Regions from separate parts of the Homo sapiens genome. Here all the other regions are reported to be linked to region 4. The links are microRNA targets in miRTarBase. Many come from high-throughput screens and were not tested one by one. Region 4 holds a microRNA gene; each other region holds the end of a gene's coding sequence.

Region 1 (4,089 bases), not on the chromosome of region 4:
AAATATATTGTCTAGGCTCATTAGTAATAGAATCATGTAGTAACTTAGTTGTTTTACTACATTAATTCAAAGGAGAGATTATTGGTAATAAAGTGATACATTCAGACAGATAGACAAAATGATACGATATCTAGGTTTGCTTCTAATTAATTCTGGGGAGGTGAGAGAAGTAAAACAAAATTGGCCTTGAGTTAATAGTGATTGAAGCTGAGTGATGGACACATAGATTGTTACACCAGTCTCTTATTTGTTAATAATTTTGAAATTTTCTACAACAAATAGTATTTTTCGGAATTATTACATCAGAATAGAAAGTTTGTTTTTGTGTTCATTGCCACTTCTCTTACAGTGCTGAAGGAAGTCACGTTTCAGGACAAAGCAATGGGCGAGATCCACAAGCTCTTGCCAAGGCTGTACAGATTCACCAAGATACCTTACGCACAATGTACTTCGCTTAAATAGTCCAAGTATATTCTCTGAGAGGAAGTACTGAAAGATGAATTGACATACAACGTATGTTTCCAGTGAAGTCAATTGAGTAAGGACACCTCCAGCCATACAGAAACCAACACTGTGTGGGGGCCAAGGTCTGATCCTTATGTTAATACAAGGAAGATTGTTTACTTCATCAAGGAACACAGCATCATTATGCAATATGAAACCAGCCAACTGCTTTTTGTGCGGTCTCCTATAGGAAGTATCGCAATTGTTTTGTTTTCATTTCTTGTAGTCTAACCCTTTTAATGCCTTTACCTCAAGTTGCTTGGCAGCACAACTATCTTTGCAAAAAAAAGTAAAGAAAAAGTAAATGATGGTTTAAAAAATACACACCTTCATGAATAATCAAAGTGATTTTTCAGAATTATGTGTGCAAAAAATTAATGTGCATTCATATATTCTTGTAAAAGGTGTCTGTGTATTTTTAAAATATATACATCCATACTTCATATGCATATATATCTAGATCTGGATTGATAATAGATATATATGTGTCTGTTATATATTTTAGAGTTCATTCCATTGGGGAATTTTCTTTCCCTTTTATTCTACCCCCACTACCGCCTTTATTTCTCTATTTCCCTTGCCTTCATCACCTACATTTTTTTCCCAGTCCTACCAGTGACATTCAAATGTTGATGTATCTGGTTCGTTTGAATATAAAATATGGCAAACTAGAATTCTACTTTTATTTTGCATACCCTACTCCTGACTCCTATCTCATACACAATTCTGAGTTCTCAACTCTTGATATTGCTGTCTTAAGAAACAAAATTTTATATATATATGTATACATACATACACAGACACAGACACACACATATATATACATAAAATAACTTTCTGTGAGAGTGCGTCTCTCCCCTCCCACTCAGAACATACATTTACCATTTGCGCAATTTGTATATAAGCAGTAGCAACCTGAACTATTCTTTTTCTTTTTTCTTTTTCTTTTCTTTCTTTTTTTTTTTTAATGAGACAGAGCCTCGCTCTGTCACCAGGCTGGAGTGCAGTGGCGAGATCTCGGCTCACTGCAACTTCCGCCTCTCGGGTTCAAGCAATTCTCCTGCCTCAGCCTCCCGAGTAGCTGGGTTTACAGGCATGTGCCACCACACCCAGCTAATTTTTGTATTTTTAGTAGAGACGGGGTTTCACCGTGTTGGCCAGGATGGTCTCGATCTCTTGACCTTGTGATCCACCCGCCTCGACCTCCCAAAGTGCTGGGATTACAGGCATGAGCCACCGCACCCGGCCTACTATTCTTTTTCTTTAGTGAGTTTGTTAAAGCTGCTATAAATATAAAACCTGTCAGAAGTTGTAACTTTCTCTCTGGTAAGTGATGTGTATTCTGAAGCCTTCTGTTTCTATGGGTTATACATGGAAATTCTTTAAAGGTTTTATAAAGGGTAAATATTTTAAAAGATTAGAGCTCTGTAGGGTTGAGACCTCTGAAATTGAGTAGAGAGAAGAGTTTGTTGAGGGATTTTTTTGTTTTGTTTTTTGATAGTTTACTTGCTGCCTCTCATACCTTAATGTGATTTTCATATATTTTTTATATATATATATGTATGTGTGTGTATATAAACACATATGTATGTGTTTGGAAGTATAGCTTCCTTTTCTTTTATATTTATTAGAATAGTGCTTTAATAATTATAGAATTGTATTGGCAGCATCTTTTATAGAAATATAATCATGTTTATTTTAAGAACTGACAACTTGTTTTTGCTATCTTTTAGTGCAATAAGCAGTTTTAAAGGAAAGTTGTGTCTGCATCTTTACCATGGATAGTAGGAGGAACAGGCACCTCCATAGTTTAAAAGGGCAAAGAATACAGCCTTAATTTCAGAAGGAAAGTTTTGTAATTTTCAGTTTTAAAGCATATCTTTTAAAATTCATCATGATAAAAGGCTGGACGCGGTGGCTCATGCCTGTAATCCTAGCACTTTGGGAGGCTGAGACAGGTATATCACCGGAGCTCAGGAGTTTGAGACCAGCCTGGCCAACGTGGTGAAACCCCGTCTCTACTAAAAATACAAAAATTAGCTGGGCGTGGTAGTGGGCACCTCTAATCCCAGCTACTCGGGAGGCTGAGGCAGGATTGCTTGAACCTAGGAGGCGGAAGTTACAGTGAGCCAAGACTGCACCATTGCACTCCAGCCTGGGCAACAAAACCAAAACTCCGTCTCAAAAGAAAAAAAAATCATAATGAAAATGAAGTGAAATTGCCTAAATGAGTCCAACTTGAATATTAGAAATAAAGTTGAACTTTTATATAATTGTGAATAGCTTAACATATTTAAATTATTTGCAAATAGATTGTGTTTATTGAAGAATCATATTGGCTAGATGCCCATTTTCATTTACTAAAATGAATCAGGAAAATGCAAGATGATATTTTAAAACTTTTGCTAATGTATCACCAGTATAACTTTCCTTTTAAAATTAAGGTGATAGTAACAAAGGAAGTTAGGACTTTGATCATTTTAAATCAGTTAAATCACTGAAACGTGGGAAATTGTTTTACAAAACTTTTATTGATTACACTTTAAGGTATTAAAAAGTACTATAAAGCTATCAAAACTGAGTTTATCAGTAACATTGGATTCAGGGGAGCTTTGCACTTTGTAACTCATGAAAATTGCATTTTGATTTTTTTTTTTTTTGCACTGGTTCAGAGTATAGATACTACAGATTGTTTCCAGTGGGCATTGTTGTTAGCCTTTCAGAATTCCATCTGCACGTGAAACCTAATGGATTTAGATCTTTAGTTTCTCTCTTACCTGTAATCCACTATTATTGCCAATTCACTGTATTTTGAGCCTAAAATCTGAGCCCATGTCCTCTGACAGGCATGAAATCTTTTGTCCCTCTGCCAGAAAACTAAGAAAGTACTGTATTTTGTATGTTTATTATTTTGAAGTGTCTGAAATGCAATTTACAACACTGTTGCAAAGAACTTTACAAAAGGTAATATTTGTATCGTATATACATTTTTTCTCCCAGCCTTCTCCCATCTCCTCCAGAAAAATTTCCTATAAAGATGGATTTTTTTACACTGAAATTTTACTGAATATAGTCAGGATCATGGGCAAGAGAAGAAAATAGTATACCCAAGATGATAAAAATTTAATTCGTCTATGCTTGATCAGTGTGAGTAAAACATCTTCCTTTATCATGGGAGCTGCACAGATTCATGTGGGAAACTTTAGGGAATGACTGTAGATACCCTTTCTCTATGTACTCTCTCACCTAATTTTCAGTCACTCATATATGCTAGAGTGGAGCCCTTAATTTAAATCTATTTGGAAGGACTTTTTTAAGAGGAAAAATATTTTTTCTAAATTATAAAGCTTTACCTTTTGAGTGATTTCTTTTTTAGAGTGCTCTTACACTAGTCAGCATTGCTAGTTTAAAGTTGATTAACTTGAAAGAGTATGTATACTATATTTCTATTTTGCTAACAAATTGGTATATTAATTACCATTGGTTCTTAATTACAAGAAAACTTGTGCTTAGAATTTTAAGATAAAAGGCTAAGTGACAAATGCTTCTTGAAATTTGTCCTATTTATTGTTGCATTTCTGGTGT
Region 2 (4,073 bases), not on the chromosome of region 4:
GTACATTAGTGGGACTTGAGGTTTGCCTGGGATTCAGTAGACTGCTCAGAGCAGGGGCTAGCAAACCTTTTTTATTATTGAGAATTGCCATATATAGGGAGGGCCTAGGGTTTTTTATTTTTATGATTCAGAGATTTGGGGGGTAGCTTAATGAAGTTGCAAATGAAGAATTAGGTCATTTTTGAGAAAGGGCCTAAAGAGAATGTTTTCAGATGTTTCAAATCCAGTAACTGAACCTGGAGATTTATTACAGTGCTCTTGTGCTGAGACAACAGCTCACCTTTAAGTACATGGTTTCACGTAAGTTAGCAAAGTGCTGGCTCCTAACTGCCTTTCCTGTCTGGATCCTAGGTGGAATGGACCCACATGGCTTTCCTTGGCTTTGACTTTCTCCTGTCTTACTATCGACTTCTCTCTCATGGGCCCTTTTCCCTTCATTCCTAGGATGCTGCAGGACATATTGAACGACATGCTGAAGATGACAGCAAAATTGATTCATGAAGTTTTTTGCCTCCCACGTTGGGAAGTCATTAGTTGAACTATTTTCACATTGGCCCCCCACACAGGCCACTCTCTTCCCTTTCTTGGTGAAGTAAGGAAGGAGAAAGTGGTTACTAGCCAGGCATACCCCTAGCATAAGTCTGGGCAGCTCTATGGGATGATAAATTACACTTTTAAGTTCTTGCTGGAGGTTTTAAATAGATTTAGACAAATGTTAAGGAACCATACTTCTCTGGGACAGCATGGCATATAGTGATATATGCTATTTGCGTTCTCCAGATGTTTATTGAAGATACAGATCCTAATTGGTTACCCAGTTTGACCCTAATCATATGTATATTTTATTGATTTCAGTTTGCAATTTTTAATTTATGTTCTTATGATGGTTTAAACCTATAGTCAGGCTTTTAAGTACAAGTTTGTTTAAGTGCCAGACTTTGAGGATCAGTTTTAATTTCTCCATTTGTAATAGCTGGGTATTTAAACTGGAAGCAAATAGTTTTCTTTCTTAACAATTATGTGCAGTGTGTGTCACTGTTTTCTTGCTTTATAGATAGAGCTGGCTTTAAGTGCTAAAGGACACAGTAGATTTTTGACAAACAGTGGCTGCTCTGCTGACTATCTTTTAGGAATTCAGGAAGCAAATCACATAGTGACAAGTCCTTACAGACACCACTTCTAGTAAATCTCTGTAAATGTGGATAGAAAGCTCAGTGTGAGGCAGTGCGTAGACCTAACGTCTACCTTTACATCTGCTGTTGAACCTGGGCACTACCTGTTACAGATCCTGTCAGGCTGTTGAACTGGAGGTGTACCTTTATCTTCCTTTCTAGTGTCTGACCCTGCAAGCCTAATGTTGGTTTGAACCCTTTTGGTTTGTTCAGTTGCCAGCCTCCATCTCTCCCACTGTATGGCCGTGCCTAGACCGATGGCAGCCATCGAATATTCCTCTGGGCTCACGGGGTGTTTTCCACCCCCCTGCAGCAACTAAGATGGTGGGGGAGAGGGGGTTAGAATAAAGCATCTGAATACAGTTTTCAGGACCTCAAGCAGACTTCCTAGAGACTTGTTTCTGAGACAGTTCTTTGCCTTCACTTCCCTGCTAGCTGGGAAAGAAGAGTGGAGCAGAGACTCTGCCTGGCCACTGAGAACAGCCAAATTCACAAACCCTCAGTGGGGCTTTGTTTTTGGATTTTCTCCGGACTCATCAGTAAACCTGTAGAAGTGTCGCTTTCCAGCCTTTTGTTTCTGGATCCTCAAAACTCAGAACGTGGCCGGGCGTGGTGGCTCACGCCTGTAATCCCAGCACTTTGGGAGGCTGAGGCAGGCAGATCACCTGAGGCTAGGAGTTGCAGACCAGCCTGGCCAACATGGCAAAACCCCGTCTCTACTAAAAATACAAAAAGCCGGGCGTGGTGGGCGCCTGTAATCCCAGCTGCTCAGGAGGCTGAGGCAGGAGAATCGCTTGAACCCGGGAGGCAGAGATTGCAGTAAGCTGAGATCGTGCCACTGCACTCCAGCCTGGTGACAGAGTGAGACTCCGTCTCAAAAAAAAAAAAAAAAACTCAGCTTCTTCAGAGAGATAAAATTGGGGGAGGAGCCCAGGGCCACATACCAAGCTTTGGGACATGGTGCCTCATGCTCTCTGGGATTGCAGACCATCCAGGTCTGTCTTCGCCCCTGTTAGTGCACATATATCCACTCACATGTCTTCCCTCAGGCTATCGGGCAGGGGGACTTCACCAGGGGGTTTATGGATAGGCTTCAAGAGGGTCTGTGAGCCCCCAGAAATTGTGTGTGAGACTGAGTATGTGTTCTTTTTTCCAGGAAAGGCTCCAGTGGTTCTTACTTGATCCAAAAAATGTCAAGAATTAATCTAGGAGGCCGGGCCTGGTGGCTCACACCTGTAATCCCAGCTCTTTGGGAGGCCGAGGCGGGTGGATCACTCAAGGTCAGGCATTTGAGACCAGCCTGGCCAACATAGTGAAACCCCGTCTCTATTAAAAATACAAAAATTAGCTGGGTGTGGTGGTATGTGCCTGTAGTCTCAGCTACTCAGGAGGCTGAGACAGGAGAATCACTTGAACCCTGGAGGTAGAAGTTGCAGTGAGCCAAGATCATACTACTGCACTCCAGCCTGGGCGACAAGAGTGAAACTCCACCTCAAAAAAAAAAAAAAAAGAGTTAATCTAGGAGATAATGAATGGCCTAGTACTAGATAATATATGGCCCCACAAGCTCTTGACTTCTGTCCTTGGGGAAAGCCATTTTGTTAACCACACTAGTGAGATTTACATGATGCTTAATGGAGAACAGAGAAGATCTTGTTGCAAAAGGTGTATTAAATATTTGTGCTGTTTCTGTATGAGATTGAGAAGCTTTTCCCACCTCTCACCCCTATTTCCTATAAGGATATCCAGAGAAGCCAAACTGTTCTGTGGGTTTGGGAATGGTCATTTCCCGGGAAAATGCATCTGGATCGATGACTAAACCTGGCCCTTTTCTCTGGGCTGTAGTGAAGCCGCATTTTCACGCTGGCTGGCAGTGTGCTGAGAGCCTCGAATGCTCTGCGGCGTAGTGCCCTTCTGCCCTGCCTGACGATGTATCGAAAAGATGAGAGTGAAGGAGACTTTGTGCAGCAGGAAACGGGTAGGTGAGGTGTTGGGCAGTTGTGGGAACTTCTGAGAGTATTACAGAGTGGTAGAATCGGTAAGAACTCTGATTTGGACTTCGCTTTGGTGGAACTGTGTGCCTATACCTGCCTGTGTGTGTGCAAGTGTGCAGGTTCCTTTGTATGTATGTGTACGTGTGGGAACCTGTGTTTGTCATATTTTTCTTCATTTCACAAAGGCTTTTTTTGAAGCAGTGGCAGTATGCCTTTGTTTCAAGAACACATGAAATTCTTTTAACACCAGATTAGTGTGTTACCCCAAATGAACGGTTCTAGCCCTCTATTAAGAAATAAAGGGACCATAAGCATTTTGGCTGCTTATGGCTGTGTGTTACTACTTACAAGAGTCTTGAAAATTATACAGAACTTTGCCTTCTTTTTTTAATGTCTTCCACAATGTTGTGACTGATTATAACCCTGTTTCCCCTCAGAGAAGAGCTATGGCTCAGGGATCTGTGTTGACTCTGGCATTTAGTGGCTTTGTGAAGGAAAGAAACCATTAAATGACCTGACAAAAACTGACTCATGTCTTTAAAGTAGTTGAAGCCACTTTTAGAATGTTACTCTCGGTTGCTTTTGTCTAATTCTAATGGCTTAAAGCCAAGAAAACCATAGTATAAATCTTTTTGTGTACCTATGCTAGTGTTTAAATGGCAGTTCGTTGTGATAAAGTATCAGTCACTTCAAGTTTTCTGTGAAAGTTTTTAATTAGGTTAAAAATAATTTTGGCATACGTCTCTACTCAGTTTATAAAGCAGTTCCACACCATGCAAACAAAACTCTAACAGCAAAGGTTATCTTGACCTGATGTTACTTGAATCTGAGAGAAAGTCATTACTTACTACTGCACTCCTGCTTTTGTGGGAAAAATTTTCTTCTTCCCCAGAAGAGTTAACAGTTG
Region 3 (4,089 bases), not on the chromosome of region 4:
ACTCCCTGCAGTCATTCCCATCTGAGCCTGTTTTTTCACCTTGCCCAAACACTGTGGGCAGTGTGGGAGAAGAGGGCAAGCATTCAGTCACTTTCGGCCCTGTCTTATGAGCGCTCTCACTTGGGTAAGATATTTAAACTCTCTGGGTTTCTGTTCTCTCAATCTGGTAATGGGATTAACAGTACTCATCTTGAAAACTGCAAGGATTTAAATGAGATAACCTGATAGTGCAAGGCACTGTCTAGCACGGTGCCTAAGGTACAGCAGGTCATCAACAATATTTACACTGTGGTCCCAGTAAGGTAGCCAGGCTATCCTCAGGTCACAGGTATTTATCATGCACAGAGTTTTGATTATTTTTGTTCAAGCTGACCAGTTGCCTGACCAACAGCAGCACATACTTCCCTGGCAATCACATCCATAGCCATGACTTTGGGCATCGTGGATATGCCAGTGATTCCCTGCACTTTCTCCACCCGTCCCCTCTCCCAGGTACTCTGCTTATCTCCAACCACCTTCCTAACACACAAGCGTTTCACATCATTTCAAATTGAAATCCAACATTCACTTATTCAAGCTAGTAGAGGGGAACTGTCCTTAACTTGTTAAAGAACAACTACCAAAATACCCTACAGCCATCCTGCCACCTCAGCCTCCTGAATAGCTGGAACTAAAGGTGCACACCACCCAGCTAATTTTTGTTCATTTTTTAAGAGACAAGGTCTCCCTATGTTGCCTAGGCTGGTCTTAAACTCCTGGGCTCAAGGGATTCTCCCTCCTCAGCCTCCCGAGGTGCTGGGATTACAGGCGTGAGCCATCGTGCCCAACCAATACAAGGTTTAACAAATCCTTAGGAAAGCCTAAGAAATGAACATTTAAAGCAGAAATTAAGATTATACAGAACTCCAGTAAAATTGATTAATACGTCTAAGGACTGGTTATTTGAATAACAAAAAATCTGGAACAATTTTCTGGAAATACAAATTAACAAAACTGAGCTAAAGATGAAACATCTAAAAAGAGCAGATACTCTGCAGGCCTTTGCTTAATTATTCCAATATTTAATTCTCCAGACCTCTGTTAACTTTGGGTTCTGTTGAGAAAATAAGTTATTTGAATGTTGTAGATTCCACAGATCTATCGAATGTTGAGGTAACTGGTTCCTGTTTTATGTTTTTGAGAATTTTTTTTGAAATTAAAACATTTTTTACTATTTCAACGGGATTTTGGGATGTGGAAGAGATTGTTCAGGCCTGGCGCGGTGGCTCACGTCTGTAATCCCAGCACTTTGGGAGGCCAAGGCAGGCTTATCACGAGGTCAGGAGATCGAGACCATCCTGGCTAACACGGTGAAACCCCGTCTCTACTGAAAATACAAAAAAAAATTAGTCGGGCATGGTGGCGGGTGCCTGTGGTCCTAGCTACTTGGGAGGCTGAGGAAGGAGAATGGCATGAACCCGGGAGGTGGAGCTTGCAGATCGTGCCCCACTGCACTCCAGCCTGGGGGACAGAGCGAGACTCTGTCTCAAAAAAAAAAAAAAAAAAGAAGAGATTGTTCATCACCCTTATCTTGAACTGGAAGTTGATATTCTCTTTTATGCACAACATGGCTTCTATGATAAACCTTTGATTGAGAACCTTTTTTTTCTTGCTCTGTTGCCCAGGCTGGAGTGCAGTGGCACAATCATGGCTCGCTGCAGCCTTCAGCTCCTAGGCTCAAGCGATCCTCTTGCTTAGGCCTCTTGAGTAGCTGGGACTATGCACACACACCACCATGCCCAACTAATTTTATTTTTTTTTAGAGACAGAGTCTTGTCATGTAGCCTGGGGTGGTCTTGAACTCCTGGCCTCAAACGATCCTCCCACCTTGGTCTCCCAAAGTGCTGGGATTACAGGTGTGAGCCACCACTCCTGGCCCACAATTCCGAACACTGCTAAGAGCTAACCATTTCTATAGCATACTCACTTTCTGAAACATTCCTCTGGTAAGGAAACCAGGTCAGGTGTTCTTTGCTGGAAGTCCAACTATGTTTTGTGACTCACTCAGGTTCACATAGTGAGTCAGTAGTGGAGGGGATTCCAGCTGAGTAACCCCTATCCTGAGGCATCTAAGTTAAATGGAAGTTCCAGACAACAGAGCTGACCCACTCTGCTTTCTCATCCCTGAATTCCTGAAAGTCTCAGAAGTCTTTGGTCTAATCTTAATTGGAATTTGCTCACATCTTCAGCTTGACAGATCAAAATAAGATCTGGAATAGTACTCATGCTACTCAATTGATTCCTCTTGAAAATAGCCCTGTGTGAAGTAACATCAGCAATCATTATCCCCTTTACAAAAGGGAATCTGATTTAGAAAGGTGAAGCGTCACTCAGGGTTTAAAAACAAAACCACTATAGTAGAAGAGCGAGGAGGCTTTGAATGGTATATTCTATTGGGCAATTTGAGACCCGGGAATCTATGTGCATAAATATATGTACAGCAATCAGTATTAATCAATAATCAACTCCCTTGCCCCTAAATTTCCCCTTATAAATCTAGCCTTTGGGCTAATCTATCTTTCAGTTTAGCACCCAATTGTTCTCTTTAGCCCATGGCCTGTCTCCATTTAGAAGGCAAATTCAAAAACAGGCTAAATCAAACAAGGCCACCATAAAGATCCTCAGGGTAAGAAGGCTCAAAAATACAAAGGGAAAGCCAATACCAGGAATGCTATAAACATTTTATTTATTTTTTAAGAAAGTAGCTTCAGAAAAAGAGGAAAATATCTAGATCATTTATTTATACATATATATATTTTTTAATAAAAACCTTTACATTATCTTCATGCATAAAGACCCAGGTGTGGCCATATTGCCTGAGATAGCCCTAACACCAGCTATCTCATGCCATTACCTGGGGCTCCCTATAGCTGTCAGCAGTGTAGCAAAGGCCCTCTGCCTGCCCCTAACGCCCAACTCCATGCCTGCCTCAGTCATGGTTTGTTTTTGCTTCTGGAAGGGGTAGATGGAGGGTGGGAAATGCTTTGGAGCTAACATGGGATGAACAGGGAGGGTTACCCAACCTGCCATTTTTTATCCAAACTCTGCAGGCAAATCCAGACAGAGTCTCAGCAAGACTGAAAACCAGGGACCAAACCAAACTCTGGGAGCTTCCCACAGACATGTCACATGTGACCAAGGGTTCCTGCACATAGTAGTAGCAAAGGTATGGTGTTCATGGAACTCTAAAGGCAGGAACAAAAACAGCCCTGAAGATCAATCCCTCCGTGACAGGCATTCACTTCTGCCCTAAGTGTGTCAGAAAGATCCCATTTTGTTTCCTAACTCAGGCCAACCCTCCTTTGCCTCCAAAATTCAGTGTTAACTAACCAATTACTTAAGAGACGGATCCCTCTTCCTTCTGTGGATAGTTCATCTGTTAAGGATCCATTATCACCTGTCTCACTCCTCCTAAGGAGTCCTAGTATAAAAGGGCCAGGGTAGGAGTAGGGAAGCTGGTTGGCATGGAGGGTCACAAGATCCAGAATGGCTAGGGATGGAAAAAGAATACCCTGGTTCTTTGGGGGATTCTGCCAAAGGAGCTTTATTGACCATTTTTTTAAAGGAAAAACACTGAATGATCTTGAGGATGGTAAACTGTCTCCTCTTCTGGGTTCCAGAAGCCCTTATGCTACGTTCAGTATTAAGAAAAGCCCTGAACAAGTGGAGGATGCTGCTTCTGGCAGCAGGGAGGGAGGGTAGATGCCACAGCCAACCCAGAGAATGGCAAACAGTGCCAATCCAAACAAGGCAGGGAACCTCTGTGTGGTGTGAATGGGCATGTGACTGTGATGCAAAGTGCCTGGGGCTCACAGGCTCCCAACAGCCAGTTCTCGCAGATAGGACTGGGTAAGGCTGCGCAGTTCGTCCATGGCATAGTCCTCAGGCATGGGAAGCCGGCCAATGTGGGGAGCCAAGAGGCGCAAAGGGACTCGCTGAGGGTCTGGTGTTGAGTCGGAGGTTCTATCAGGAGGATGATGCAGACTCAGCACCACGCGCAGCAGGTTGGCTACACGTTTGGCCATGTCTAGAGAGAAAAACTAGAGTCAA
Region 4 (4,089 bases):
TAGGCACCTGAGATACTTTGATTTTTCTTCATTTCTACATCTCTTCCCATCCTCCTGTCCCTATGACATTTTCCTTAGTTATCTCATCTCATCCTTTACACATAAAACCCTTATCCCTCAGACATAAAATCCTCTTATGCCATTTAGCAGATGAGGAAAGTGCGGCACAGAGAGGTCAAATGACGTGCTCAAGGCCACACAGCTGGGAGCAGCACAGCCAACTTGGGAACCCAGGTCTGTGGGGTGCAAAGTCCAGTGTTCTCCAACCTTCCAGTAGGTCCTGGGAGGAGCTAGACTGGGCTTGGAGGGTTTGAGAGTGTAACTGAGCAGTGATGGGCCCTGTCCCCTTCCTGAGAGTTGACACTCTCACACACTAGTAAGAATCAGGATCTCAGAAGCACTGAAAACTCACACTGGCACGAGTCTTGAAGAAGAGCTAAACCACCTTCTCCTCCAGCCCCAAACTCATAATTTCTTGTAGTATTTCTGATGGCTATTGGTTATTGAGCAATGACGGGAGTTGCCCAACCCTTGGGCGCGGGGGGCGGGCACCAACCACCTAAAATAGAATGTGAATAGTGCCCTCTGGAGCATTTCATAGTCTTGTGATTGGAGCCTTCTGGAGTTGCAGTGTGACAACCCTCAAGCTAATAAGCACATTGGAACCTCAGGACAGTAGATACCAATATGCCCATTTTACAGATGAAGAAACTGAGGCTCAGGGAAGTAAAATGACTTTTGCAAGGTCACCCAGTGAGGAGGTTCCTCACCAATCAGAAGGGGCACAATGCTAGAGGGGCGGGCTCCTTCCTGGTCCCAGGACCTCCTGCTCCAAGGTGGCAGAGAGAGAAAGTAGGATGATGGCAGGGGGCTCACCACTTTGATGGGCCTCAGGCTGCTGAGTCTGTCCTCTGGCTGCTGGTCCACCAGTCCCAGTGGGCGTACTCGCCCTTCTCAAACACAAACTGCTCGCCCTTGCAGTTGGCCTGTTCATAGCTCACCCAGCTGCCATGGAGTCAGAGAGAAAGGGGGCAGGTCAGTTCCACTCCAAGCTTCCTATGGCAGAATCCTGGCTACTGATGTTGACCCCTAGGGTTCACTCTTGCCCAGCCCGGCAAGATGTAATAGCCCCACCCAAACCTTAGCACAGCAAATCCAAGTGCAAAATCCCCTCAGTTATCTAGAACTCAGTGCTATGCTGCCTTTACCCACCTGGAACACAGTTAAGAAATAAGAAGGCAGTCTAAATAACGGCCCAGCAACAAATACCAATATATAGACGCCATGCACTAAAGCCAATAGTATGCTGGTAAGTTAATAGCCAACTCTCAAAAAACAAAACGAAAATTAACACTCTTGATTTGCAGCGTTTGCCAATTTCCATGGTGTAAATGCTCCCACTGTGGCAGATTTCAAGCTATCAATACGACACGGCTGCAAGTGAAGTTAGGAAGAGAGATGCACAGTCAGCCTTCACCACTGAGAACTGACTCTAGAACATCTCTGGGCCCAAAGCCCCTCTCTTTGGATCTGTTTCTTCTCTTGTTCCTGTTGTTAGACTCTGCCCAAACTCTGTTTTTGTAGATCCACATTAGAAGAAAAATAGTACATTAAAGAGGAAGGGATGGCTTTCAGGTCGGGCATGGCTAATAGAAGAAAGCAGAAAATAGAAGAAAGAAGGCACAAATCTCAAAATGATTAGCATTCTGGGACCAACCAGTGCAGAGGCGAACATTTCAGCAATGTGCAATAATGGCTTTTCAGAGGAATGATCTAAGTCATTAACAAAAGAGGAGATCATGTTTATTATCCTCTTTTGGAAAAGTAGTCTTGATCCAGCAATTCTACTTCAGGCAATGGTTCCTTACAAAACAGTTGTCAAGGGGCTGGGCACTGTGGCTTATGCCTATAATCCCAGCACTCTGGGAAGCTGAGGTGGGCAGATCACCTGAGATCAGGAGTTCGAGACCAGTGAAACTCTATCTCTACTAAAAATACAAAAAATTGGTCAGGCATGGTGGCTCATGCCTTTAATCCCAGCACTTTGAGAGGCCGAGGCGGGCAAATCACGAGGTCAGGACTTCAAGACCAGCCTGGCCAACATGGTGAAACCCCGTCTCTACTAAAATACACAAAAATTAGCTAGGCATAGTGGCAGGCACCTGTAATCCCAGCTACTCAGGAGGCTGAGGCAGAAGAATCACTTGAACCTGGGAGGCGGAGGTTGCAGTGAGCCAAGATCACGCCACTGCACTCCAGTCTGGGCAACAGAGTGAGACACTGTCTCAAAAAATAAAAAATAAAAATAAAGAAAAAGAAGACGTTCAAGTGACCAACTGACATGAAAAAATGCACTACCTCACTAATCATCAGTGAAATGCAACTCACAAACACAATGAGATACCATCTCACGCTGGTCAGAATGGCCATTTTTCCAAAAGCAAAACAACATGCTGGCGAGGCAGGAAAGGAAAGGGAACGCTCCTACCTTGGGGAACGTGAAAACAGGTTCACACTGTGGAAAGCAGTGTAGAGATTCTCAAAGAACTTAAAACAGAACTACCATCAGACCCAGCAATTCCACTACTTAGTATCTACCCAAAAGACAATAAATCCTTCTATCAAAAAGACACATGCTCTCGTGCATTCATGGTCGTGCCATTCACAAGAACAAAGATGTGGAAGCATCCTAGATGACCAGCAACAGTGGATTTGATTTTTTAATGTGGCGCATACACACCAAAAAATACTACGCAGCCATAAGTAAAACACACAATCATGTCCTAAGCAGCATGGATAGACCTGGGGATTATTATGTTTAGCAAACCAAGGCAAGAACAGAAAACCAAATACTGCATGTTCTCACTTATGAGTGGGAGCTAAACAGTGAATACACTCGAACATAAAGATGGAAACAATAGACACTGGGGACTATCAGATGGAAAAAAGGAGGCAGAAAGGGAGTGTGGGCGGAAGAACCACCTGACGGGCACTTTGCTCACTGCCTGGGTGACGGGGTCAGTGGCCACAAGCCTCAGTGTCATCAAAGGTTCACATGTAACTAAGCTGCAATTTAATCAAAATAAAAGTTGATTTAAAAAAAAAAAAAAAAAAACAGGGTTGCCCTGGGCACAGTGGCTCCCGCCTGTAATCACAGCACTTTGGGAGGCTAAGGCAGGCAGATCACTTGAGCCTGGGAGTTCGAGAGAAGCCTGGGCAGCATGGCAAAACCCTACCTCTACAGAAAGTACAAAAAAATTAGTGGGGCATGGGGATGCGCACCTGTAGTCCCAGCTACTTGGGAGGTTGAGGAGGGAGGATCACTTGAGCCCGGGAGGTTCAAGGCTGCAATGAGCCAAGATCGCACTGCTGAACTCCAGCCTGGGTGACAGAGCAATAACCTGTCTCAAATAATAATAATAATAGGATTAGGATATATTATAGATAGATAGATAGATAGATAGATAGATAGATAGATAGATAGATAGATAGATAAAACAAAACCTACAGTCATCCAGGCAATCACTGACTGGCATAAATATAGAAAGACAACCGAATGGACAAAATGAGGGAGCCAAGTAATCAACCCAAAATTATATTTAGGGCACACATTTTTCAAAAGCACACCAAGGCACACCAGTTGAGAAAACTGGGTAGTCATGTGCAAAAGATTGAAATAGCACCCCTATGCTGCCCAATACACAAAAATCTACAAAAAATAAATCGAACAGTTAAATTCAATCCTGAAAGCAAAACACTCCAAGGAAAAAACATGGGATAAGCATATATTTGGGGGAAACTTGACACTGTGCACACAGGTCGCAAAAAGAAAAGGAAAAATTAGGGGGAAAATACGCATAGACAATAAAATGGCTTAACAATCTCTTTTTTTGGATGGAACACTGAAATCACTGGCAACAAATGCAAATATAAACATGAGAGACTAAGTACAACATTAGAGCTGCTGCACAGGACAGAACAAACGAACCCAAAGAGAAGGCATCTTAGACTAGGCATGGTGGCTCACGAGGTCAGGAGTTTGACACCAGCCTGGCCAACATGGTGAAACCCCGTCTCTAGTAATACAAA
Region 5 (4,082 bases), not on the chromosome of region 4:
GATATTTCCCAGTCCTGTCAGAGGTGTCCTTGCAGGGAGTCTGGCTCTTTTCTCCCTTTCCCTGGCCTTCATTGATCTGTCCAATTTTCCCTGGCAGAGCTCTCTTTACGAGAAAAGGAAGATCCTGGCTGGTCAGCATGAGGATGCCCGGGAGCTGAAGGAGAACCTGGATCGCAGGGAGCGAGTAGTGCTGGGCATCTTGGCCAATTACCTTTCAGAGGAGCAGCTCCAGGACTACCAGCACTTCGTGAAAATGAAGTCCACGCTCCTCATTGAGCAACGGAAGCTGGATGACAAGATCAAGCTGGGCCAGGAGCAGGTCAAGTGTCTGCTGGAGAGCCTGCCCTCAGATTTCATTCCCAAGGCTGGGGCCCTGGCTCTGCCCCCAAACCTCACGAGTGAGCCCATTCCTGCTGGGGGCTGTACTTTCAGTGGTATTTTCCCAACATTAACCTCTCCACTTTAACCTCTTCTAAAATACCCAACCAAAAGATCACTGTTTCTCTCAACACTATTTAATCTGAAAAATGTTTCAGTACAAACCACTGTTTGAACTATCTGGGTTATTGGTGTTTGTTCCTGATGAAAGGAAAAAAATTCTCTCCAGGAGGAAGCCTTTTTCCTTCTTGCCCTTCCTGATTGATCTTCTGAGAGCTCGAATGCTGCTGGACACGTACCCCTTTCTATTATTACTTTGTAGTAGAAAGAAAGTTAATGAAACTGAGAACTGATTGGAGGGTGTTTGATCATTTAGTTTTTAACAGGCTGAGGCAACATGGATCAGTGTGTGTCCCCCTCAGGAATGTATCCACAGTGGCCTTCCTTGCTGGTGGGCAGTGTATCCTGATGGCAGGGTACAAGTACCATTAATGAAGGGTCTGCAACATAAAGCCTTAAAAAGACACACACTAAGAAAACTGTAAAACCTTGAACATTGTTATTTATATTTTTTAAAATGGAAAAGATCACTATGTTTGTTGTGCTAACCACTTATTTGATTCTGTTTTGTGGTGGACATAGATGATTACGTTTGAGCTTTGTATTTTGTGAAAACCTTAATGAAATGAATTCCAAAGATAGTCACGTTGAGCGTGAAGACTTTTTTTCTTACATTCCTGTCTTATTTTTACCAACACGAGCAGGCATTCTGCGCTTCCACTGGACTGAGTATGGGGGAGTCCTGCTCCCCTCCTGTCTCACACCTTCCCCAGGAGGAAGGCCTCATGCACTGCGGTTATTGCATCATTTCCTAGTGCTTCATGTCATTATCACTGGTGGGGAAACAAAGCTAAATTTTATTAACAAAGACAACTCTCAGACCTATATAATAGGAGGAGGACGTCCAGAATCCAACAAAATTCAAACGGAGCCCATGCTGTTCTCCTGAACAAGATTTGGGCTAAATACGGCCTGTTTATTGAGGCTGTTTTAATGATGCTTTAAAAAAAAAAAATGTTTTCTAAAATGTCAAACCTGTTGACCACACTTTGATTAAAAACTGCCTCCTTAACCTCTGAAGACTGATTTTGCTTTATCATGTTTCAATAATAACATTTCAGAGGTTACTCTGTAGCCCCAGTTGTAAGCTTATAAAAACAAACTGGAAGGCTGAGGAGGTTATGGGCTGGCAGCCAGGCTATGTTTACAGCTGCTGGAGATGGCAGTAGCCTTATACTTTGAGCAGGTAGTACATCCCAGGCTGTGCTAGAGGTAGATTTGTTTTTTCACGTTTGATCTGTGGCTGGTGGCCACCTTTGTTGATTTGGGCTTACGAGTTTCATAGTAGCCAGTCTTAGAAAATTGGGGGAGTAAAATTTTGAAGTAAAAAAAAAAAAAAAATGACAAGGGAACCAAATGCTCCTTCTCCCCTTAGTACATTTTCATTACTTAATGAAGTTTTATCTCCTATGTAAGAATATCAAAATTGTAGTTTGGGTCTCCAGTAGAGATGTCTTTTGATTAACTTATAAACAACTGGCCACCCAGAAGTTTCCTTTGCATAGTCAACCAAAGCTATGGCTTTGTTCTTTGGAGCTTATATACTGCATGACTCCATTGATACAAATAAGACAGCACCTTGGTTTCCCAGGGATGTTTTCATTCAGAGGTCCTGTCTCCCAGGAAAGCAGTAGAACCAGTGACAGCATTCAACAGCCACACTGCATGGTCATCAGTCTTAGGCCAACATGGGAGCCTGAAATTAACTCCATCAGTAACTACCTGTGTGTCTTGCTGATACTGAATGAGCCCTCACAAGCCAAGCCAGGTGGAAGACAGCCAGCAAACGTCTACAGTTATTCTTAGTGAAATTCCTCAGAGGAATCCAGGGGGCTCCCAGTTCCCAACACTCTTCGAGATGACCATTTTTCGGGATTTGACTGGGGAACATTTTACATATTCAGTCTTTCTCAAAAATTTTTATTTATTTTCTTGAGAAAGGGTCTTACTATGTTGCCCAGGCTGGAGTGCAGAGTGGTGCGATAACAGCTCATTGCAGTCTGAACCTCTGAGGCTCAAGCCATCCTCCCATCTCAGCCTCCCAAGTAGCTGGGACCACAGGTGTGCACCACTATGCTTGGCTAATTTTTTGATTTTTTATAGAGACGGGGGTCTCGCTATGTTGCCCAGGCTGGTTTCAAACTCCTGGGCTCAAGGGATCCTTCCGCTTTGGTCCCAGAAGTGCTGGGATTACAGGCATGAGCCACTTCACCCAGCCACTTTTCTAATTTATAGACATAAAAGTAATTGACTCCCACAGCACAGTAACAGGCAATGCTGCTTGGCATGCCACAAACATCTGAAAGCTTGTGACACTCCTAGGATTGTGTCCATTCTTTCATTATGTGGAAACTTTGTTCTGTTATGTGAAATGGGTAAGGCACCAAGTGAGACTTTGAAATCTAATTTTTAGGTGGATGTGATATTTATTGTAATAGGACTTGACCTCTGTACTTTAAAGAAATCACTAACCAAATTTTCAAAGTTTCCTTTTAAATGCGTTTAGCTAGAAATCTATGTATTTATCCCTTTCCTATTTTGCATTCTTCTCCCACTATTTTTAAAAACTCATTTACAGTAGAAACCATTCTTCTTTCTCCCAACAGTATCCTTTGCCAAGACCATGAGAACAGTAAGGAGCATGTTGTTGGTCAGGGTTTCAGAATACGCGTGATGTCACTGAGAATGTTTGCTCACAGTCAATAATTGTCTTTGTGGATGTGATAATTTTGGAGATACACTTCTGGTCAGAACTCAGGTGAGATAATCTTGCAATACTCCAAATGCAGATACTCCAGCCACCCGCAAGGTTCCAGGAAAGGACAATGTCCTGCGAGAAAATCAGGAGGCCTCCACTTCCTGGGCCACTTGAGAAGTTCCTGGGCATGTCACTACATGTTGGTTGACTCAGCCATTTCTCATGCTGTTTTGTTTCTTGCGGTGGCCACTTAACCCCAAAGAATGAAGGGAGGATCCACAGTGAAAGTGCCTGAGTTTCTCTATGAGACCAGATGCTGTCGAAACCAAACATCTTTTCCTTTGCTCTATGGGAACATTTTAGGGTTTGTTTTGCACAGCTGGTTTCCAGACTAGAAGATTAACAAGTTTGGGTCCACCCCTAAGAATCAGTGGCTGTCTTTTAAGGTGAGGAGTGTGGGCTTAACTGAGGTCCTTTGAGGGAGCTATAAAGGAGAAACAACCTGGGACATCCCAGTTTTCCTATTCCTCCACTGTTAATATCTCATCTAAAATAATTCATGAGTTTAAATGGTAAATATATGCTTTAAGCTCTACCTTTAAACTTGTATGTTATTCAGGCATCTCTTATTAAGATACTGGGTCTCTGGATACCCAAGGAAATGTTGGCTTTTTATTCTTATGTGGTTCCAAATTTACTTCTCTTCAGTTTAATTGTCCATGGTAGTGCTGGCTTCATTGTTAGGTTGGAGTTATTATTTTCCTTTTAGAACAACATGAATTTTATTCACCTTACTATTAGAAAAAGGAATAACTACAGCCAGAAATAACTTCATTTCCTACAAGGTATAAAAAGTGGTCAAGTGAATGTGAAGGGGCTTTTCTAC
Region 6 (4,089 bases), not on the chromosome of region 4:
TTCTAGAATCTAGAAGGTGCTGTCTTGGTCAGATCAGACCCTGAGAGAACAGCTGTAGCTACCAATTGAATCAGATTCATTCATTCATGCAGCATTCACTCATTCATCCATATACTTTTTGAATCACTGTTATATGCAAGGAACTTTTAAAGAATTACTCTGACCCAATGTATGAATTTGGAATAATCTCCAAAATACTATATAAGAAAGCAAGCTTCAGAACACTGTGTATAGAATTCTACTATTTGTATTAAAAATAGATATATAAATATACATATTTATAAACTTGTAAATGCATAGAATTGCTATGAAAGGATACACAACATATAGATAACAGTGATTAACTCTGGAGAGGGGACTAGAGGCTGACCTCCATGGGGAAGCTTACCATTTATTGTATACCCTTTTGTATTGTGGAATGTCTTACCATGTATATGTATTAATTTTTCAAAACAAAAAAACAAACAAACAAAAAAAGAAACTGCCTGGTGCTGAATATACAGTGGTGAACAGGACAGAGGTTCCCCAGTCTTGGGGAAGGCAAAGTGTTGAGCTTACTGGGCCACAATTATCAAATTTTTTAAAACCAGACTGTTTACATAAGTTAAGGGGAAAGTTCTTTCTACAACAATTAGCTTATAATAATTCAGCATATCATTTTACAGAGATAAAGCAGTTGGAAAATAAATACTAAGTAATTTGTCAAGTCTTAGACTGTATTAAGTTGTAGTTTCTACAAGGGAAGGGATCTTATCTGTTTAACTTGATCAGTAGAGCATTCACTGCAGCATAATGTGCAGATAAACGCTTGTTACAGCAAGCATTTTCTGATGATGACAAATGATAGCACAACCATTTAAAAAAATCTTGAAAAAGAAAAGACCAGAAGATGCTGGACTCTGAGGGAACTGTGTGTTCCCTGTGAGGGTTAGGCAACCTTTTCTAGACAGTCCTCAAAAAATGATGGTGTTCAAATGGCAAGGTAAATCCCAATGAGAATGAAAGGTTGTAGAGATACCACGTTTCGAAATGTCAACGGTGTGATGCTCGAGGCCCTCCTTGGGGTGACAAGGCACAGATGGACTCCAAAGAGAACCTGGCACTTGGCAGGGCACCCCAACTGCATGGGAAGTAGGAAAGCAAATGTCTGGGGGGCTGCAAACCACTGACAAGCTGGCAGCCTGTCAAAGCAGCCTTGGTCACTAACGAGCACAGTGGTTGACAGGCTTGACTCAGCACCATCACTACAGGTAGCCTCTGCACATCGTTTAACCTCTCGGAGCCTCGGTTTCTTCTCCGTAAAATGGAGGACAACTGTGAGATCTTTGTGAGGATTAAAGGAGAGAATCACCAGAAAGTGTTCAGTAAGATGCTAGGCACACAAGGAGGGCTTAAAATGCTATCTTCACTCTTACTAAAGAATGGCTAGGTGTCTGGGCCACTTCATAACTGCTAATCAGCATCCAAGTCCAAACAGCAGACAAAATGTGCTCCACCCTCCATGCCCTAAGGTCAAGTAAAGATTTCCCCACATTCATATAGTGTTTTATAAACTAGAAAATACTTTCACATTCATAAGCTCACAAAAGCCTGTGAAGCCAGTTGGATGGGAATTACTAACTCTATTGTGAAGGAGAGGAGACAGTGAGGTTAAGGGATTTGTTAAGAGCTGGCTAAGGACAGAATCCAGGCCAGGACCCAGGTTTTCCAGGGACTGGCTCAGCATTTTTCCAACTCACGTTCTTCCCAGGAAGGAGATGTATATCTGGGGTCACGACAGGTGGTCAAACCTGCAATTCTACCATCTCTGCCTGCTCTCCAGCTACCACTGTGTCTGAGCAGGAAGGGATCCAGCCAGTCATTTCAAACCCTTCTATCAGCCTCCTCTGGAACCCATTCCTGTGAATGGACCCAGGGTACAGGGATGGCTTCCTGTAACTAGAATTAGGCATGGGACAACAGCTACGGCAGGTCTAGGTCTGGCTTTGCAGGTAGCTGGAAACAGGCCTGGGTTGCCCCACTGCCAGCTGGGGAGGCAGGGAAGTGGCAGCCTTGCCAGGAAGAGCAATTATTAAAAGGGTGCAGACAGCGAGAGTCTCTCTGAAAGTGAGGCAACCTTTCCCACTGCCATTAGCATTTCCACTAAAAACTTGGCATTTGATAGAGGGGAAAAAATGTATTTTTTCAACTGTGAAAAGGTCAGGCATATTTATCTGACTTAATAATTTATAATTGATATTTAATGCCTCCTTGAAAGATGACCTCTAAGCACCCGGCCAGCACCCTCTTCCCTTTACTCCACTACATCCTGCTGGGCGCAACCCCATGCCACCTGGGTTAGAGGTCAGACGACACCTCCACACAGCCTGCTCCTCGTGCTTGGGTGGGCCCTGACTCCACCATCAGTGAAAAGACAGCCAGTCTCCCAAGTCTAATCCCAGTTCTGCCACATTTGAGTTCTCTGTGGCAGTAGCGATGCTGTAAGAAATAAGAAACCTCTTGAATGCTATAAGAAAATTATAAAATTCCTCTTCTCCACCCCCTTTTCCCTTTTTACCAGTAAGGGGTTCTCTTATGTTGAAAATCAACTGAAGGAAAGATGAAGGTGCCTAGAAAATTTCGATACGCCCTAAAGCCAATGTCACTAGCCTGGAGATCTTGGAGGTGACTTGACCATTGTGGAGCCGCTCCCCTCACCCCTTCAGAAGGTCTCTAGAGAACTAAGTAGTACAGGGCTCCCGGTTTCCTAACCACAAGCTCCAGAATCTAGAGAAGGCCTTCCTTAGACAGTAGGAAGTATTGTTCTCCCTCAGAGATGGGACAAACAGGGGAAGTCTGGGAAAGACCCTTGGGTGGAATAGGGTGGGGCCAGGCTCACTTGGAGAGGAATACAAGAGCCTACCTGCATGGTGAGAAGATTTTTTATTTGAAATATAGTCTGAGCAACATGAGTGTAGCCAAGAGGAGTAGGGGCTGGCCTGCCTGGGGCAGCAGCCTCTCAAATGGCACGAGAGCAGTACAAATATTCCAATGTCTGTGTGCCCCAACCCCACCTGTCAGGAAAGGCAGAACAGCAGAACAAAGACCCACCCACAGCGCCTTCTCAAGGGGTCTGGTTCTTGGTGCCTGCCTGCCTTTGCCTTACCTCCTGCTCTGCCCAGGTTCCAAACAGAGGTGTGCAGCAGAGGTTTCTCCCACCCCACCCACAGAGACATGATGAGCCAGTGTGACAATTAGTTCTCAGGACTATTTTGAGGGAAAAGAATCAGAGAAGACAGGGAGGAGGGGCAAGGTGATCAAGGGCCCTCGCCAAACCAGACTAGGCAGAGCTCTCCCAGAGGGACTGTGTCAGCACCCCTCATTTCCCTCCTTCTCAGGATCTAAAGGCAGGAAGGAGAGCTGGTGTCTGCAGGAAAATAGAGCTCTGAGGAGCGCCCTGGCTGAAGGCAGCAAGCGGGAACCTCCCAGAAGAGCACAGCCGCTGTGGGGTTCAAGCCTAGTTGACAGCAGTGGGGTTGGGCCACATAAGCAGCTTGGGGTTGGAAGGACACAGACAAGAGATGGGGCACCAAGAAGCAGCGAAAAGCCATAAATAACAGAAGCAAATTCAGAGCTGTGAGGGTCCTGGCCGACCCCACATTTCCTGGGGCTGGGGGATACCCAGCACTGGCAGCTCAGGGCAGACACTACTCCAGGGTACAACCGGTCACACTCACACTGGGGGCAGAGCCTTTTATTTTCCACGGTCCGCAGGGCAGGTGGAAGACACTTCGGCACCACCCCTGACCATGCACACTGCAAAGTCTCCGGTCACACCTGAGGGGACAGTGTGTGGCTGTCCTGGTCCTGAGAGGCCTGTGGTTGACTGTGATCATTGTGGCCACCATCGTCCTCAGGGGCCGGGCCCAGCAATCTCCTCGCCTCTGGGTCAGCTGACAAAGGCTCACCGGCACATTCTTCCAGTCCATTCTCTCTAGTCTCCATGGGCACCTCCTCCCCGGAGCCCTCCTCTGGCTCTGCCACCTCCACTGCCATCTCCGCTGCCGCCGCCTCCTCTTCCTCCTCCTCCTCCTGGTCTCTCACCTTGTG

Evidence for each region. Region 4 holds the annotated microRNA hsa-miR-6817-5p (UCUGCCAUAGGAAGCUUGGAGUGG, at 1,043-1,066, opposite strand). A microRNA usually pairs through its seed, bases 2 to 8, with sites in the 3' UTR of a target mRNA and lowers its output. Matches are read on the target gene's strand: a 7mer-m8 pairs with bases 2 to 8, a 7mer-A1 pairs with bases 2 to 7 and ends in A, and an 8mer does both.
Region 1: the mRNA of AGO3 is a reported target of hsa-miR-6817-5p. The part of its 3' UTR that is shown has no 7-base or 8-base seed match.
Region 2: miRTarBase lists ZNF106 as a target of hsa-miR-6817-5p. Seed matches in the 3' UTR shown: 7mer-m8 at 1,430-1,436 and 7mer-m8 at 3,823-3,829.
Region 3: miRTarBase lists NUP98 as a target of hsa-miR-6817-5p. Seed matches in the 3' UTR shown: 7mer-A1 at 3,569-3,575 and 7mer-m8 at 3,063-3,069.
Region 5: the mRNA of SHROOM3 is a reported target of hsa-miR-6817-5p. Seed matches in the 3' UTR shown: 7mer-m8 at 847-853 and 7mer-m8 at 1,658-1,664.
Region 6: miRTarBase lists ZNF592 as a target of hsa-miR-6817-5p. Seed matches in the 3' UTR shown: 7mer-A1 at 2,443-2,449 and 7mer-m8 at 2,125-2,131.

The regions. Positions count from the first base shown.
Region 1 is chr1:36,055,288-36,059,376 of GRCh38, forward strand. It overlaps AGO3 (argonaute RISC catalytic component 3), which reads left to right. Exons shown (of 19, transcript NM_024852.4): 19 at 350-4,089. The coding sequence ends at 458. Among named protein-coding and RNA genes, the nearest start is that of TEKT2, 27 kb to the right of the region's middle.
Region 2 is chr15:42,413,732-42,417,804 of GRCh38, reverse strand. ZNF106 (zinc finger protein 106) reads left to right here. Exons shown (of 22, transcript NM_001366845.3): 22 at 445-4,073. The coding sequence ends at 501. Among named protein-coding and RNA genes, the nearest start is that of CAPN3, 56 kb to the right of the region's middle.
Region 3 is chr11:3,672,311-3,676,399 of GRCh38, forward strand. NUP98 (nucleoporin 98 and 96 precursor) reads right to left here. Exons shown (of 33, transcript NM_016320.5): 33 at 2,709-4,066. The coding sequence ends at 3,849. Among named protein-coding and RNA genes, the nearest start is that of CHRNA10, 3.0 kb to the left of the region's middle.
Region 4 is chr22:25,452,628-25,456,716 of GRCh38, reverse strand. MIR6817 (microRNA 6817) reads right to left here and starts at 1,071; the gene lies at 1,006-1,071. It also overlaps the pseudogene CRYBB2P1. RefSeq lists an enhancer at 901-1,004.
Region 5 is chr4:76,778,712-76,782,793 of GRCh38, forward strand. SHROOM3 (shroom family member 3) reads left to right here. Exons shown (of 11, transcript NM_020859.4): 11 at 98-4,082. The coding sequence ends at 466. The region is part of intron 1 of SHROOM3-AS1 (SHROOM3 antisense RNA 1); the gene reads right to left. Among named protein-coding and RNA genes, the nearest start is that of SHROOM3-AS1, 22 kb to the right of the region's middle. RefSeq lists enhancers at 2,792-3,991, 3,031-3,990, 3,122-3,491, 3,225-3,519.
Region 6 is chr15:84,802,115-84,806,203 of GRCh38, reverse strand. It overlaps ZNF592 (zinc finger protein 592), which reads right to left. Exons shown (of 11, transcript NM_014630.3): 11 at 1-4,089. The coding sequence ends at 3,811. Among named protein-coding and RNA genes, the nearest start is that of ALPK3, 13 kb to the left of the region's middle. RefSeq lists enhancers at 1,561-2,060, 2,061-2,562.